Regions from separate parts of the Homo sapiens genome. Here region 1 is linked to region 2. Evidence: fine-mapped expression QTL. Tissue or cell type: subcutaneous fat. Region 2 holds a variant in brackets; the other region holds the start of a gene. All regions are shown on one strand. Distances are from middle to middle.

Region 1 (8,090 bases), 54 kb before region 2:
CCCCTCCAACCCTATGACTCCAGGTCCATAGTGTATGAGGCCCTGAGCCCTGCCCAGGCCCGAGCTTCTGATCTCTTCTCTTTAAGAGCTGGGCCTTCAAAGGCCACCTTTGAGCCCCAGATACAACTTCACTGGGATTACCACAGCAACCCAACCCTGCTTTCAGTCCTGAGGCAGAGCCATTCTACTGATCTTCACAAGACCTGAATTACTAGGGCTAGGTTCTCCCCAGAGCCCCTCCCCCACCAACCCCCCTCCCCCCAAAGAAGGCTCTCACATTTGATTTGGAGCCTGCAAGTCTCTGCAGGCTGCTTGGGGTTGGGGGAGGCAGGATGAAGTGAGCTGAGACGCAGACAGGAGGCTGCCAGCCTGCTCTTGCCTTCCCTTCTCTTGTTCCCCCATGAGCGGGGAGGCCCTATCACCCTCTAATGAGTCTGATAAAGCAATTCAATTTTCCAGGCTGGGAGAGAGTGAGGCATGCTGGGAAAGGATGCTGGCTCCTTGGCCTGGACCTGAAGGAGGGTCAGTCCCTGGCAGGAGCTAGAATACCAAAAAGGGAAAGTGTGAGCACCAATGGATAGAACCTTGCCTTGGCCTGGAGCCCCTCACCACAAACAGGTTTCAAAGAAGGAAGATGGAGAGGAGATTGGATGGCTCCAGTCATCCTAAAGAGGCTGAGCCCATACAAAGCTCCCAGTGGGGAAAGGGGAAGGGTAAACGGCTTTGATTTCAGGCTTTCAGCTTCCTACGGACAGGGTCAGCGTCGGCACTCAGAGGGTGAGGACCTTATTATGCGGGTGGAGGGGGGGCCTGGAAAGGGTGCAGGTGCTTGACAGCCTCCATCGGTGCCCCTTTAGAATCTCCCATGGCCCTCTCTTCCTATTCTTTCACCACACCCTCACCCCTGATGAGGGAAACCCGCTGTGGCTGACACCTTCTGTGAACTGGCTTTCAGACAGGTGCTCTTCCCTGACAGCCTGAAGAAGCCAGGGCACTAAGGAGAGGACAAAAGAGAAAAGGTGAAAATGAGGGAAAGAAGCTTGGGGAACTAGGAATTTCCAATAGTGGCTGCTTTGTGGTCTTGCTTAAGCCTGTCAGGTATCAAGGTCTTGGAGGAATGAAGAAGGGAGGGAGTAGGCAGAGTCCCAATGGCAGAGTTAGGCTAGAAGATGTACCTGAGGTCCTGGAATCAACAGGAAGCCCAGAATCAGCTGCCACCCCATCTGCCCACATCACAGCCCCCAGAGCTCAGGGCGAGGTCTGGAGCCAGGATGTTCTAGCACCACCAGAGGGCAGCACCCTCACATCCATGGTAGGCTGTGTCACAGTAGCCTGGGCAGGGGGCTCTCCTATCCTTCCCCGGCTCTGTGTTTTGAGGGAACACCAAGACCTCACACAAAGAAATGATGGGGACAAGTCCCATAGTGCTAACTGCAGCATATCGACTCCCTCAGAGAGGTACACGTAACAGGTGAGCCCAGAGTTCTAGAATAAACCTTCAGCAAGGGTGAGGCATTCTCTGGAGGCCTCAGGACTGAGGCTGAGCTCCCCTCTCCCGAGCTGGTCAGTGCACAGAGCTGGGAGTCCTGGCCCCATGCACCTTTACCCAGCTGCCTCTCTCAGGCTGGGCCCTCTGTTTTTGTCAGCTCTTCCTAGGTTCCTATGCCTGTGTCCCAACTTTCTGATCTTCCTCCCTTCCCTCTTGGCCTCCTTTTTCCCTGGCAGCTTTCTCCCTTTACCCATCTCCCCAGGTGCTCATCACTATCCACAAGCACCGCAGAGTGGAAGCACCAGTTGGGCAGATTTACTAGGATGAGTGGCTGTTTTATTCACTGATGTATTTCCAGTACCCGGAACTGCTTCTGGCATATCGTAGGTATTCAATAAGTGTTCATTGAGTTAATAAGTCAATCAGGGGTGGGATACTATGGGTTTTGTCCCCTTGCCTACTACACTCCCTTTGTTACAATTACTGAGCTCAGTCATCCTGATGAACGGAAAGCAGGGGAGAGACCCCAAGGGACTTTGCCAGGACACGGACCAGATAGGACTTGAAAGTTATTCATTACATTAATATTCTGTGGTTCTTTCTTCCTCACTCCAGTTTCTGGCCTGTCCCGGGTCTTCTCTTCCCAGTCACACTTGGGATATTTCTTTTCACTGCAGCAAACTCAAAGACAGCTAAACTCTGAAATACAAACATCAGTTTCGAGGAGCAGGGACTGGGCACAAAGGGGGTGCCAGTAAATGTGTGTTTCTGATTAACTCACCTCCCCTGCGTGTCAGTACAGATCATCAAAGATCATTGTCATTTTGGTTTTCTGGCCTCATTAATAATGAGACTTTTGCTTGTAAAAATCCCTTGCATTGGCACTGAGCTTTTAACCTTTCCTGAGACACACATAGGCCCTTGTCTTGTTTTTCTCAGTTGAGCTAGGTACTGCCTGATCTGGAACTGGGAAGGTGCACAGGTGTCCAGGGCAGGTGTGTCATTCACCTTTCATTTCTGCCTCAAGATCTCTTTACATCATCCAGACAGGCATGGAGGCTGCCTGAAGCTGTAAAAAAGAAAAAAAAACCCAATGGGGATTAATATGAAGATGTAAAATAGGTTCTGGACTTAACAAAAACAAATGAATCTGGAAATTGCTCTTGGGATAGGGCCAGTAAAGTCCTGTTGGTGCCTACGTTTTGGGTATGGCAGCTTCTCAATCACTTAGCAAACAGGTTCTCAGAGGCAGGCACTGTGGGAGCTATCAAGATGAAAAAGCACAATGCCGCCTGCAGGAGCTCAGGGTTAGGGAGGGGAGAGGAGACATATACACAGGCAAAGTCAAATTGTAATGGGTAGAATAAGAGTAGAAACAGGAAGGGGTCATGAGGCAGGACACGGGCATTTCCTATGTGGACCCCAGAGCAATGACGAGCAAAGGCTTTAACTAATGACTTTTCAGGGCCACCCACCCACTCCACATCCATAAAACATTTCGCGATGAACACAGCCAGAGCTACGGTTTCCTTCCATCCGGCACAAGAAGCGCTTCTCTGCCCAAGGCCACCCCGTCCTCCATTCCATCGCGGGGACTTTGGTGGCTGGGACAGAGGCGGAGAGCATCAAGACCATGGGTGTCTTGGGCTACGTTGGGCCTCCGAGGCGCAGGATGCGGGGCGGGGTGGTCAGAAGGCCCCAACACGGTCCCTGGGAAAGGAGAGGGCAGCCTGATCCTCGCGACAGCGTCTCTACCCTCTTTCTTCCTTGGCCTTCCGTCAGCCGCAGTGAAACGGCAACAGTGCGACCAGCTTGGCGGGGAGGGGGCGAGGGACGAAGCAAGAAGAGCCGGGCGGAGGTTAGAGGTCAGGGGTCGAGAGCGCTTCGGTGTCAGCGGGCTGCGGTGGGAGGAGCTGCGGGCCCGGGGGAGGCGCGGAGCAGGGCTGAGGGGGGCGGGAGGGGTTGCCGGCGGAAGCGCGCAGGGGCGGCGCGCTGGGCTGGGCACTGGCGGCGAGGAGGTGACGCGCTTGGTTGGGGCTCGGCTCCGGGGAGGAAGACTGCGCTCGGTCGCCAGGGCCTGCAGTGAGTCGGATCGGCCCCGCGCTGCGCCGCGCCCCGCCCACCCCGCCCCGCGAAGGGCGCGTCTGGGCGAGGCGGGGCCCCGGAGGAAAAGGCGCCACTGGGGCGTGGCGGCCGCTGCCAGCGCCGGAGGGAGACCATGAGCCCCTAGGGCCCCAGCCCACCGGCGCCGAGGCGCCCCCTCCCCTATGCCACCTCGCGCCCGCCCCCTGCCGCGCGCGAGCCAAGGCCGGCGCCCCGCCCGGAGATGGGCAGACGCGTAGATGGCGTGGCTCCCAGCGCCGCCAGATCGCAGGAACCAGGCGCCGGGGCGTTGCGCTGAGGCTCCCTCTCCGCGCGGCCCGGGAAGCCTGCAGGTGTCCTTGGCCGCTCGGCCGCCGCCCCCGGTACACCTTCGCCAGTGCCCAGAGCCCGGCTCCCCAGAGCGGCCCCGCCCCCCAGGCTCGGCGCCGCGCAGGACGCCCCGTCTGAGGCACCCCCGCCCCAGCGCGGCCCCCGCAGCGCTGCGCCCGGTCCGGCGCAGCTCCCAGCCGCGGACGCAGGACCCGAGGCTCGCTCCTGCGGGCGCGCTTGTTTTCCAGCTGCCGCCTCGCCCTGCGCAGCCCCCGCCCGCCCGGCCGCCGCTCTCTGCTCTGCCCCGCCTGCCTTCCTCGCCCGGCGCTGGATTTATGAATGGGGGGAAGAGGCCACATGCCGCCGCCGCCGCCTCGTGTTGACCGCAAGCAGCCCGGGCCCACGGAGCTCCGGCTGCCGTGAGAGTGTCGGCCTGGCCCCGGCAGCCGCTCGGAGGACTTGTTGCTGCTGCGCTGCCGCCGCTGCGGGGAAGCCGGCTATTCCGGGGCTTGGTGCGGTCTTGGAGCCGGAGGGTGGCCCGTGTGAGCGCGAGCGCCCCGGACCTTCGCGGTGCGCGTGGACTGTGCGCTTCCTCGTCTTTGGTCGGGGTGAAGGCGGGGGCGTGTCCCCGGCCCAGAGCGTTTGTGTGTCCCGTCGTAGCGGGGGACCGCGTGTGTGCTTGCTTCTACTTCCCCGGGTCCTCCCTCTCTGCGCCTCCCTCTCTCCGGAGCTTCCTGCCCTAACCCCAACCACCTGTGTACCGGAGAAATCCAACTCCTCCCGCTCCGCGTCCTAGGGGGATAGGCAGGGGCAAGCCCAAGCCGCAGAGGGGGCCGCCACCGCCTCCTGCCTCCTCTTCGTCTCCTCCCCCTCCCCCGTCTGACGCTGCCTCCTCGGGAAGGGTGTTTGGAGGGCAGCGGCCGCCCCAAGCCGGAGCCCCGCAGCGCTTCTTATGATCAGCTCGGTGTGTGTCTCCTCCTACCGCGGGCGCAAGTCGGGGAACAAGCCTCCGTCCAAAACATGTCTGAAGGAGGAGATGGCCAAGGGCGAGGCGTCGGAGAAGATCATCATCAACGTGGGCGGCACGCGACATGAGACCTACCGCAGCACCCTGCGCACCCTACCGGGAACCCGCCTCGCCTGGCTGGCCGACCCCGACGGCGGGGGCCGGCCCGAGACCGATGGCGGCGGTGTGGGTAGCAGCGGCAGCAGCGGCGGCGGGGGCTGCGAGTTCTTCTTCGACAGGCACCCGGGCGTCTTCGCCTACGTGCTCAACTACTACCGCACCGGCAAGCTGCACTGCCCCGCGGACGTGTGCGGGCCGCTCTTCGAAGAGGAGCTCACCTTCTGGGGCATCGACGAGACCGACGTGGAACCCTGCTGCTGGATGACCTACCGGCAGCACCGCGACGCCGAGGAGGCGCTCGACATCTTCGAGAGCCCGGACGGAGGCGGCAGCGGCGCGGGGCCCAGCGACGAGGCCGGCGACGATGAGCGGGAGCTGGCCCTGCAGCGACTGGGCCCCCACGAGGGAGGCGCGGGCCATGGCGCCGGGTCTGGGGGCTGCCGCGGCTGGCAGCCCCGCATGTGGGCGCTCTTCGAGGATCCCTACTCCTCCCGGGCCGCTAGGGTGAGTGGCAGGAGCCCGTGTCTCCCCATCTTGGGTCTGCAAGGGGTCCGTGGTGGGTGGTGGGTAGGGGCCGGGAGGAGCAGGGACCGAGCCTGACTTACCTTACCACCGCAGATTGTTCCCGCCTTCCTCTCAACCCCCCTCCGTGGCTCGCAGGGGAATTACACACTCCCACCCTCTCCCCTGCACGCTCCATCAGGAGATTGCACACACTTGACTTACTACTTGGACCCAGTCCCAGCTGCCTGCTTTGCCGCATCCCCTCCAGTGAGTGGGGTGCCCAGCTCAGCTCCTCCACCCCCTTCTTTGGTCTGCACAGGCTGCCCTATCTTCAGCTGCCCTCCACTCCACACAGGACTACGGTCCTGGAAGAGCTGGAATTTGGTCTTCTGATGGGGGCAGGCAGGGTTGAGAGGAAGGAAACTAGGGTGGGTTTTGTTAGATGCTTCCATGCCGTGCCACCTCATTTACATCCTCCCAGCAGCTCAGTGTGCTCACAACTATGCACTTCAGAGAGGAGGATATAGGCTTCAGCATCTTAAGCTCAGAAGAGGCAAAGCTGAGACCACAATCCGGCCTCCTTTCCAGGTTTAAGAAAGGCATTCTTTCTGCCAGGGAGGATACCATGCCCCTGAGGCTTCCTGCACACCTGGGATGTCCTGGCCTCAGCTGGGGTGAGAGGAGAATTAAACACGAAGGGCCTAGCGTTCTAGGCTCTGCAGGCTCCCACGGCCAGTGGCCAGCCACAGGCTTCCTGGTGATGATACCAGATTTTTGTTGCCGCTTCTTTTCTTTCTGCTGCAGCACAAACTGTCTTTCCAGAAAGCCCTGGTTCAGGTTACTGCTTGAAATGGGTGTATGAGGGAAGGGGGAAGCACAGGTTGATTTAGGCAAGACCTACCGCCTCCTCCCCAAGTAAATCCAGTTTCCCTAACTCCTTTAGGTGAAAGGGGAGAACGGGGGAGGTGCTTCCCCCATTATGCTTCGACAGCTAAAAAAAAAAAAAAAAAAAAAAAAAAATCCCTGAAGGATGGCTTTAGATTCTTTAAAGAAAGAAAACTCTGGGGGCTGGTGTCGGATCTCATGGTCAGCAGCCTAAAGCCTGGCTGGAGTCTGTCTGGGAGACAGGAAAGAGCAATGTAACTTGTTGGGTCTGGGGACTGCTGCTTGCTGTGGAACCTGGTTGGTTCCTCCAGCATCCCAAATTGTCATGTTAATGAGTCTCAGAGCACCCTCCCTTTCCCAGCACCCCTGTGCTGGACTCCTTCCTAGTCATAGAAGAAGGCAGGGTAGGGAATTGGGGAACAGGCCTGCAGGGAAAAGCCAGGCTGGCATAAATGCCAGGCCAGGGCAGATGCATCTTCTGCCTGGAAGAGAAGGGAGGAGCAGAGGTCTCAGGGGCCATGGCATACCGGGCTGGGGCTGCAGGCAGCCACGAGAAGGCAGGGATCTTTCTCAGGACTGACAACAAAGCTAGAGGCAACTGTCTGGGTTTCTTTCCTTGCAGCCCTGAGACTGGCTAAGAAGGTGAGGGCATAGTGATGCCCCTGGCCTGGGTCTGCTGTGAGTTCTACAGACTTCTCATGTAGGTCACTAACCTTGCTAGTGTTAGCACTTGGCTGTCTGCATTAGGGGAGAGAGGGCAGGCACACATCATTCAGACTCTTTCAAAGTTGGGGGTCGGGGAGGAGAGATAGAGATAGAGATGGGGAAAGGGGACAAACCAGGGAAGCAGGGATGAGATGAGGTGGTTAGGGGAGCTAGGCCCTATTTCTGAGCATTCTGGGACTTCTAGGGGCTTTTCACCTGCTCTTCTTCCCCTCTGGAATTCCAGGTGGCACCCCACATATCATTGAGTTTATTTTCTTCCTAACTCACTGCTGAATGGCCAAGCCAGGGGGCCTCTTTGAGTAAGCTCAGAGCCTGGCCTGCCCCTGGAAGTCTTCCCAGGAACCCAGGGTGCTTTGCCCCTTTGACATGGAATCACATCAGCCCAGGCATTCCAGTTGAGGTCTTGAAGTTTATGATGGAGCAAGGTTAATTCTTCCATTTAAACATTGAGAAAACCAGGATTCAGAGACATTAAGTTTCTTGCCAAAGACATTTAACTAATAGCAGAGGCAGGAAACCACCCCTAGTTTCCAGCCTTCTGGTTGTTCATCCTGATGTGAATATCTGGATGGAGCTCTGGCCAACACATGCACTAAAAGAGGACTTGCCTCCTGCTCAGGAGCCCAGGCAAAGGCAACCCTCACCTGCTCCCGGGACACACAAGTGGGAATACATAATTTTTACAAATTAATGAATAACTGCTCATTATTGAGCACCCCAGACAGATACATTGCTGTATATACTTTACATTAATCTCTAATCCTCCCAATAAACTTAAAACCCGGTGATTATCCCCGTTTAATAGATTGAGGCTGTGAGAAGGTAAACAACTTGCCTGAGATCACACAGCCAGATAGTGGCCAGGCTTTGAATCAAAGCCAGAGTCCCTGACTCCCAAGCCCTTGCTCTTGTGATTACAACACCTTCTTTCCACTGAACTAGGCTGTT
Region 2 (8,102 bases):
TCCTCCTGAACTAGGAACAGGGGGGCTTTTCCCTCTCTTTATCAAACCATTTAGGGCATAAGGGTGCTTCCCACTGAAAGCCCCATGGATTGCAGATCTTGAAAATCCTTTGGGATCTGTAAGATGTTAGGACTTTGTAAAGAGGAATTGATGATCTTAGACTAGATAGTGTGAGAAAAAAAGAGGAAATGATGAATATATCATCTATCAGGTTTCAGGTTTTTCTCAATCAACCAACATCTTTTCAAATGCCTACCATGTGTCTATATAACTTTCACAAAATGAACAAATGTCTTTAAAAGATTCCTGCAAAGAAATTCGGGTTGGAGATAATATCAATAGTAAAAGCATAAAAAACAAAAAGAATATTTCTGGGGTGACCCTTTTCTTTCTTTATAAGTTCTTTGTTAGCCACTTTATAAGGCAAAAGCAATGAGAATCCAATCAGATCTGAAAAGAAGTTGACAGAAAAATGCAACATTTAAAAAACAATTGTCTCTTTGGGAGGTCGAGGTGGGTGGATCACGAGGTCAGGAGATCGAGACAATCCTGGCTAACACGGTGAAACCCCATCTCTACTAAAAATACAAAAAATTAGCCGGGCACGGAGACGTGCGCTTGTAGTCCCAGCTACTCGGGAGGCTGAGGGAGGAGAATGGTGTGAACCGGGGAGGCGGAGCTTGCAGTGAGCCGAGATCGCGCCACTGCACTCCAGCCTGGGTGACGCAGCGAGACTCCGTCTCAAAAAAATAAATAAATAAAAAGCAAAAACAATTCTCTGAAACATGGTTGCCATTTATTATTGTTAATGAAGGATATTGTCCTAAGAGTTTTTGTCTTGAGATATTAGCTAATGATAGCAGAAAATTTCCCAATTAGTAAGATATTTAAAAATTAAGCATCTAGACCATGAAGAAAAACTTTCTCAATTTTTTCATTGATGCTTGAAGTCATTACAATGCTTAATCCGGTATTTAACATTTCATTAAATCTAATGATAAACATATGCGTGAATCCTTTAGTGTTCTTAGTAATTGCAAAACACAAAAAGCCATATGCCCTTAGGGAAACACTTGCTTTTTCTACCATGAAAAATGGCTGAAATAAGACATGAAAAACAATATGGCAATAAAAAATGCAATCTTTTGTCAGCAGGCATTATTGACAGATGCATAAAAAACATTGCTGAAAAAATTTTAAATGAATATTAGGACAAAGTATGCCTGATAGGAAATCTGCTATATATTTGATTTAAAGTATAGAGATTTCTAACATCTCAGTTAATGGGATTTGCTACATTTTGTTGAAATACGAGAATTATATGATAAAGCACTATTTTTGAGCCACTAAAGGGAGGATGAGTGGGAAAAGAGTAAATGACTTCCCTAATAAAAACGCTTTATAGAAAAAGTATTGACTGGAATAAAAAGAGGGATCTGGTGTGGTTACAAAGATAGAACCACACTTAATATTCCTTTACTGGGCAGCAAAGAAGTTAAAGCCATATGTGCACAAAATGCTGTGTTGTCATTGATGATGTTAATTTTATAAAAAGAAGGTCTGTAAAATATAACAGAATTCTTATAACACTTTGAAATGGGATATGGAGTGACCAGGGAGGTCTTTTGATTCCCATAAAGGTTTACCAATTTTCTCATGGCAAGTACTTAAGGTTTATCAAAATTAAAAAGTTACTTGTTTTTCTTATACAAAACAACAAGCATTCCATTTTAAAGGTGATGCTTTATTATCTTTTAAAAATTGATGACATGCTAAGGAAAAAACATTTGAAAACAGATGTTTAGATGTTTCCATCATTACACAATTTTGCCCAAAGCACTGTTTTGTAATACCTTTAAATCTCTCATACCTGTACACTTAAAAAAGGATTGGAAACAAAATTTTCTACCTTATTTTAAAATCTTGTGAATGAGGCCATATGTTTTGATTCCATTTTATTAGAACTATAAAGATATAATTATATAATAAATGCTTATAAAATACAAAGTTATAAAAATATTTGTTTGCTTAAAAGAACAGACTCTGGGTGCTATAGCAATTATGTGATGCTTATTGTATACTGCCTTAGACTTCTGGCTTCTTATCTTGAACACCTGACCTCAAGCCATCCTTGAGCGCTGGGATTACAGGCATGAGCCGCTGCACCCAGCCAACCTCTGGCTTCTTATGGAGTACTTTGTCTTTTGATGCAACTGGGAGCTCAGTGACTGCATCTTCTTCTTTCTGTGCCTTTCCTCTTCCCTAACTTCCCCAACCCTACCCTGCCCCAGTGCCTACCTCTTTGATCTGCAGCCGCTGCATTTGTGAAAGTGAATTTGAAGTTCAGGCCAATAGGGAGTTTCCAGTTCTTGTATCATACATTTTAAGGTCCATTTACTTGACCTACTCTGGCTCCCAGAAGCCCATAGGATAAGCTCTAATTTCTTAGCAATACAGCTGTCCTTCTGCCTCACTGTCTCTATCAACCTTGTCAAACCCACCTTTCTCCAATACTTCTCCAGAAGCCCTTCCTCTCCCCTACTAAGTGGAGGTCTAGATTTGTGACAAGGTACTTCTTAGGTCCCATTTCTTCGGCCCTCACCCCCTCCTTTTGGTCTTTTCCTCCTCTGAGGGCTTTCCTATAGTGCTTACCTGCACAGTCAGGACTGATAATAAGCATTTGTCGTGATGAGGACGTCCTGTCTTTCCCGCCTGTCAAGCCTTGAGCATCTGTGGTGAGACTCCGCGTAACCCCATCACCTAGGATAGCCCTGTGAACAACAGAGGATGCTGTGCACAGGCCCTGTCAGGAAATGCTCATTGGTGACAGCATGACCTCTGGTGTCTGTTTCATGACCTGTTTGCATCTGTCACTTGCACATTTTTCTGTGGTGGAGGGAGTTGCCATGTGCTGTGGTTCTAGAATGGCTGCCTGCCTGGTGGCAAAGGGAACATGTGGGTCAGCAGTGGTGGGGCTTTTCAACCTGTTTTGGGGACAGCCAGCTATCCTGAGCCCAGGAAACTGAGGGCTGGATGCTGGCTCATCCCTTGGGTAAGAGATACGGTAATAACAGCTGTTCTGGGCCAAAATACATTTAGTGACATCTTGGGAGATTTTGGTGCATGAGGCATGCTTTAAAAATACATGAGAATTTAAGGGTTTTTTTTTTTCCCACATCTGCTGAGGAAACATGTCCACACATCTAGGCTAATATTAGGGCTGTTTATTTCCTAGGGTTGACATTTCCTTGGCTGTCTAAGATTGCTGCTGGAGATAGAATGACCGATATTCACTTTGGCATCCTTCAGCCAGAAAGGATGATCAAGGTTAAATAGGAGCACGTTTGGGCAACACAGACAGACAGACACCCAGAAATATGTACGCCACTCCAAACAGGGTCATCATCTGACCCACAGTGTTGCTGGGGCTCAAAGTGGCCCTTACATAAAGGACTCCAGTTTAGAGGGTACATTTCATATGGGAGACTGATTGAGAGGTTCAAAAATCCAGTTTTATACATAGAATAAGAAACAGTTCTTCCCGTGGGAAAGACTACTTTGGGGAACAAATTGAGGCCTGGAAGGCAACCAGCCTTCCTCTCTAAAAAAAAAACAATCTCTAGCAAGCTTTCAGTGAGGGGGGGGAGCTGAATGGGGGTCTCCATTTGGGGAGAGTCCTTCTCAAGCATCTCTACCTCTGGGCTTTTTCTCTCCTCTGGGTACAAAGCTCCCCCATTCTCCCTGGTCAAATGGATGGGGTGGGGGAATCTCTTTCCCATGTTATTCTTGGTACAACTGAAGAATTCCAAAAGGGACTTTGCATACAAAAAAAGAGAAAAGGTGTTTTTTTAACTGAACAGGTGTCTTCTGGCCCCGGGCAGTAAAGCCAAACACTGACATTGGGACTGCAATGAAAGAAACCGAGGCATTTATTGTAGGGCACCAAGCAAGGAGAATTGGGCCACTAATGCTTAAACCCTGAAGTCCTCAGTGGCTTACAGGTAAGAGTTTTTGAAGGCAAGGAGACGGAGGTTACAGGCAAAGTCATAAATCAATACATAGAGTCTGTGCATTGGTTTGACCTAAAAAGGCAAGACATCTCAAAGTGGAGGAGAGAGGAACAGGTCATAGGTGGATTCAAAGATTTTTTTGATTTGTGATTGGTTAAGGAGGCTTTGTCTAAAAATTTGGAAGCAAGCAGAAAAGAATTATTAGCTCTGGCTCATGGGCATGACCTCCTCCAAGCCCTTCAGGAAGAATTTTAGAAGAAAGAACAGAGGTCAGAGTTCAGTCCTTAGTCCCCCCTTATCTGAGGTCGATATGCCAGCAGATCCATTTAGTAGGGGTCCGGGTTTCTGAAAAACAACTCAGGAACATATGTTGAGATGTTATCTTTAGTTTCTAAAGGGAACCAAAC[A/G]TGACTTTAACTTCCTTGGCTATTGTTTTAAGCCACTGTTACCTTCCTGCTTACCAAGTTGCTTATTTACTTCTCAAGGCTAGCTAGGAGCCTGCAATTTTCCTGGAAGGAACTCAAGATTTTTCTTTATTTAGACCCCTAAGAGGGATCCCTACTCGTCTCTGGAGAAGGAGGGGGAGAAAGAAGGGAGAGAGCTGGCTGGGCGCAGTGGCTCATGCCTGTAATTCCAGCACTTTGGGAGGCCAAGACAGGCGGATGGCTTAAGGTCGGGAGTTCGAAACCAGCCTGGTCAACACGGTGAAACCCCATCTCTACTAAAAATACAAAAATTGTCCAGGCATGGTGGCACACACCTGTAATCTCAACTACTCGGAGGCTGGGGCGGGAGAATCACTTGAACCCGGGAGGCGGAGGTTGCAGTGAGCCGAGATTGTGCCACTGCACTCCAGCCTGGGCAACAGAACCAAGACTCTGTCTCAGAAAAAAAAAAAAAAAAAGGTGGGGGAGAGTGAAAGAAAATAAAGTACAAAACCACTTGCAATCAAAACAGAATTTATTGATGCTATACTAGTAACTTCTTTTACCCTGTCCCTTCCCCCACACTCTGAGCATCTTCAGAGAAAGATCTCGTTTATAGTGTTCAGGTTCTTCCTAGGCTAGAAGCCTCGGAAAAATAAGTTTACAAGTGGCTGATGAGTGAACAGTAGAACTCTCAGGCTCCCTGAGTTTCCAGCAGCAGAAATAAAACATAAATAAAATAAAATAAAATAAAATAAAATAAAATAAAATAAAATAAAATAAAATAAAATAAAATAAAATATTCCCCACCCAGAGGATGGCCCCTAGCAGTCAGGTTTTAGGCTGCTAGAAGAGGGCTCCCAAAGGAGCTTTTAGAGAGGGCTGCCCAAGAAGTCATCCAGGCCCCTGTTCCCAGGCAACACTGAGGAACTCTGCACTCCTCTGGGCTGCTTGAGTTTCTTGCATTACAACAGTACTTATGTCAAAAAGTTAACCATCTCTGGTTTGGAGAGAAAGGCCCAATAGTCATCATCTTCCATTTTAGCACCAGGGAGCCTGTTCTGGGGCCCCGAAGAGGAACTCAGAGCCAGGGAAGAGGCCCTTGGAGGTGGGTAGGACAGGGTAGGTCCTGCCCAGCACTAGACCCTCTCCTCCTGAAAACACGGAGAAACTGGGCTGGTGGTGCTCCAGCCCCAGAGAGGCCCTTGGTTCCTTTGTTGACCCTCCCAAGTGACTTGTTGCACCTACCTTCCTACCTTGTTTGTCATTTGTTCATTCATTCATTCTTTCAGCACAGATAGACCCAGCCTACCATGTGATAACACTAAACCTCAGAGCACCGCAGGAATACAAAAGAAATACATGTAGCCTTGTTCCCTTTTCACATAGAGAGCTAGGGACAGGGTGGGGACTGCCTCTTGAAGTTCCATGAAGGCAGAAGAGGCACTGTGGAGCATTTAATAGATGCAGGCATTCTTCTGCTTAAGTACAATTCACCCAATTCCCCCGACAGCTCTGGAAATAGGGGGAGAAATAATGGGCAGGGAAGCAAGTTAAGTGGCTGATCAGGGACACAAGTACTGGCTTTGTGGTAACCAGATCCCAACACTGTTGCATGGGGAGAGAGTCTCAGTTGACTGAAAGGATCAGATATTGAAACATTCATAGCCGCAACACCGAAACTGCACCCTGGAGGGCTGAGTGAGGAGGGGAGGGGCTGGAGTGCAGAACAAACCTGGTCCCACAAATAAATCCAGCCCCAGGACATCACTTTCCTAATGAGAAGCAGCAAGAATTTCTGCAAGGTTTTTGGAAGACCCTTTGGAAACAGTCATTCATTGTTGGTAACCCTCACTGAGTCCTTAGGAACAGCCAGGCTTGCTCTAAGCACTTTACATGGGATAACTCCTTTAGTCTCCCTAGCAACCCTAGGAAGTAGGTACTATTACTATTCTCATTTTGCTAATGAGGAAAGGTAAAACGACTTGCCCAAGGGCACAGAACCTTTAAGTGGCAGGGCTGGGATTTGAACCCAGCCTAGCTCCAGCCTCTGCTCCTAGCTATAAGTCTGCCACAGCTGTTGTTGCCATTCTTGATCCAGATTGGCCCCCTTGCTCTTTGTATGGGCCCCATTTCTTCCCCTTAAGTCTTGGCATCTGTACCCCAAGGGACCCGAATACCAGGAGAGACCTAAAGTCTGTGTTCCCCGGACCCGAGGACCCCGTGCCTTGATGTGCCATTGTCATGGGGATGTTTGCCCCTTCTGATGTCTCCTTCTTAGCTCCTGGTTAGTTCTCTTGAAGCATCCCACTTTCTCACTTTGGCTTGCAGGGCAGGCTGAGCAAACACCATCTGCCAAGAGGCCTGCAGCAAAACAAACTGCAGCAGCCCCAGAGGTCTTGTAGCTTCCATTTAGCAAGCAGCCCGCACGCCTCTGTGGGCAGAACCCTTGGGGAGAGGGCTGCTATTCATCACTTGTTTGGCTGTGGGAGGCTCAGCAGTCTGTGTAGGGTGGGCTTTGCTGGGGAGAAAGGTGCTGGTTTTCTGAGAGCTGAGGAGGCCACTGGGAAGGTTTGGGGCCCAGGAGGGCTGCTGCTGGACTCCAGGTTGCTCAGGATCAACGTCTTTTCTCCATTCTGATGCAGAAGAACCATGTGCTTGCTTGTTTGCTATTTATACTGCAGTTGCTGTCTAGGGGTTTTCTTTGAAGGGAATGAATAGACTCTGAGGCTCTAAGTACATTTCTGGCTCAGTGCTGTGCTGCACACACCTCAGTTCAGCTGATACGAGGCCCGTCCTTATTCCCCGCTGCCTCCATGTCCTTCTGGAATCCGTACATTCCAGATAGCACCACTCCCCAATGCCTCCACCGCCCACATGAACACACTCCTAAGTACATTTACAATCCGGCTCCTGCTTCCTTCCCTGGCCAGCAAAACTTCATTTCAGCCTCTCTTAGGATTAGGTTATGCCCTTAGCCATCATCTTATTCTGTTCCTTTTAGCAAGATGCGAACCTCTACATTCTGTCATTCTTAATCCTCCTTGCCCCACTTCCTATGTATCTCACCACCAGGAAGGGACTGAAATCGCCTTTGCAGAATTATAAGTAATGAGAGAAATCTAACATGACAGACTCCATCTTGCTTCTAACCTCACAGGCTAAATTGGTTTTTTGCTTATTCTAGTCTGGAGGCCAATATAACTATGAGAGGAATTTGGTTTACAGTTAAACTTTGAGGCCAGAAAAACTGCCCCTTCCTTGTTCAGAGATTGAAGTCGCATTCGTAATACATGGTTAGAATCATGGTAAGGGCTCTAACTTTGCTGAAGAATAGGCATAGTTAAGCAATAACCTGCCATGACTTAGCATGCTTTTCTAGAAGTTTTTTACTACCCCCGAGTCATGTAAGCAGGGGTCACAAGATTTATAACTTCCCCAGCTATTCCTATATAACATCACTATTGTGAAACCTAAAGAACTTCCCCATATGTATCTGAGATATTTTTGAGATTTTTTTTCAGATTTGGCATTTTGGCAGACCAAGAGATAGATGCCACCTGGTCTTGAGACCCCCTCCCAGTACCTGACTCAGCTGCACAAAGGCAGCTTTAGACACCCCTGTGATCTTATCCCCTGTCAATCAATTGTTTCAATTCTCCAGCCC

Which allele goes with the higher level. Positions count from the first base shown, and alleles are read on the strand shown. Sizes are in standard deviations (SD) of each study's normalised expression.
For the expression in subcutaneous fat of the gene that starts at base 3,668 in region 1, allele G in region 2 goes with a higher level than allele A (small effect, 0.33 SD a copy in GTEx).

The links. PIP is the estimated chance that this variant, and not a neighbour inherited with it, causes the effect.
Region 1: KCNC4 starts here. The variant in region 2 is fine-mapped to the expression of KCNC4 in subcutaneous fat (GTEx, PIP above 0.99).

Annotation. Positions count from the first base shown.
Region 1 is chr1:110,206,647-110,214,736 of GRCh38, forward strand. It overlaps KCNC4 (potassium voltage-gated channel subfamily C member 4), which reads left to right and starts at 3,668. Exons shown (of 4, transcript NM_001039574.3): 1 at 3,668-5,531. The coding sequence starts at 4,854. KCNC4-DT (KCNC4 divergent transcript) reads right to left here and starts at 3,341. Exons shown (of 2, transcript NR_046546.1): 1 at 2,965-3,341; 2 at 1,804-2,558. RefSeq lists silencers at 1,266-1,325, 1,336-1,385, 3,348-4,027 and an enhancer at 5,265-6,153.
Region 2 is chr1:110,260,187-110,268,288 of GRCh38, forward strand. It overlaps a transcript of KCNC4 not described here. Among named protein-coding and RNA genes, the nearest start is that of KCNC4, 54 kb to the left of the region's middle. RefSeq lists an enhancer at 2,682-2,761. The variant A/G (reference allele first, on the strand shown) is at 4,418.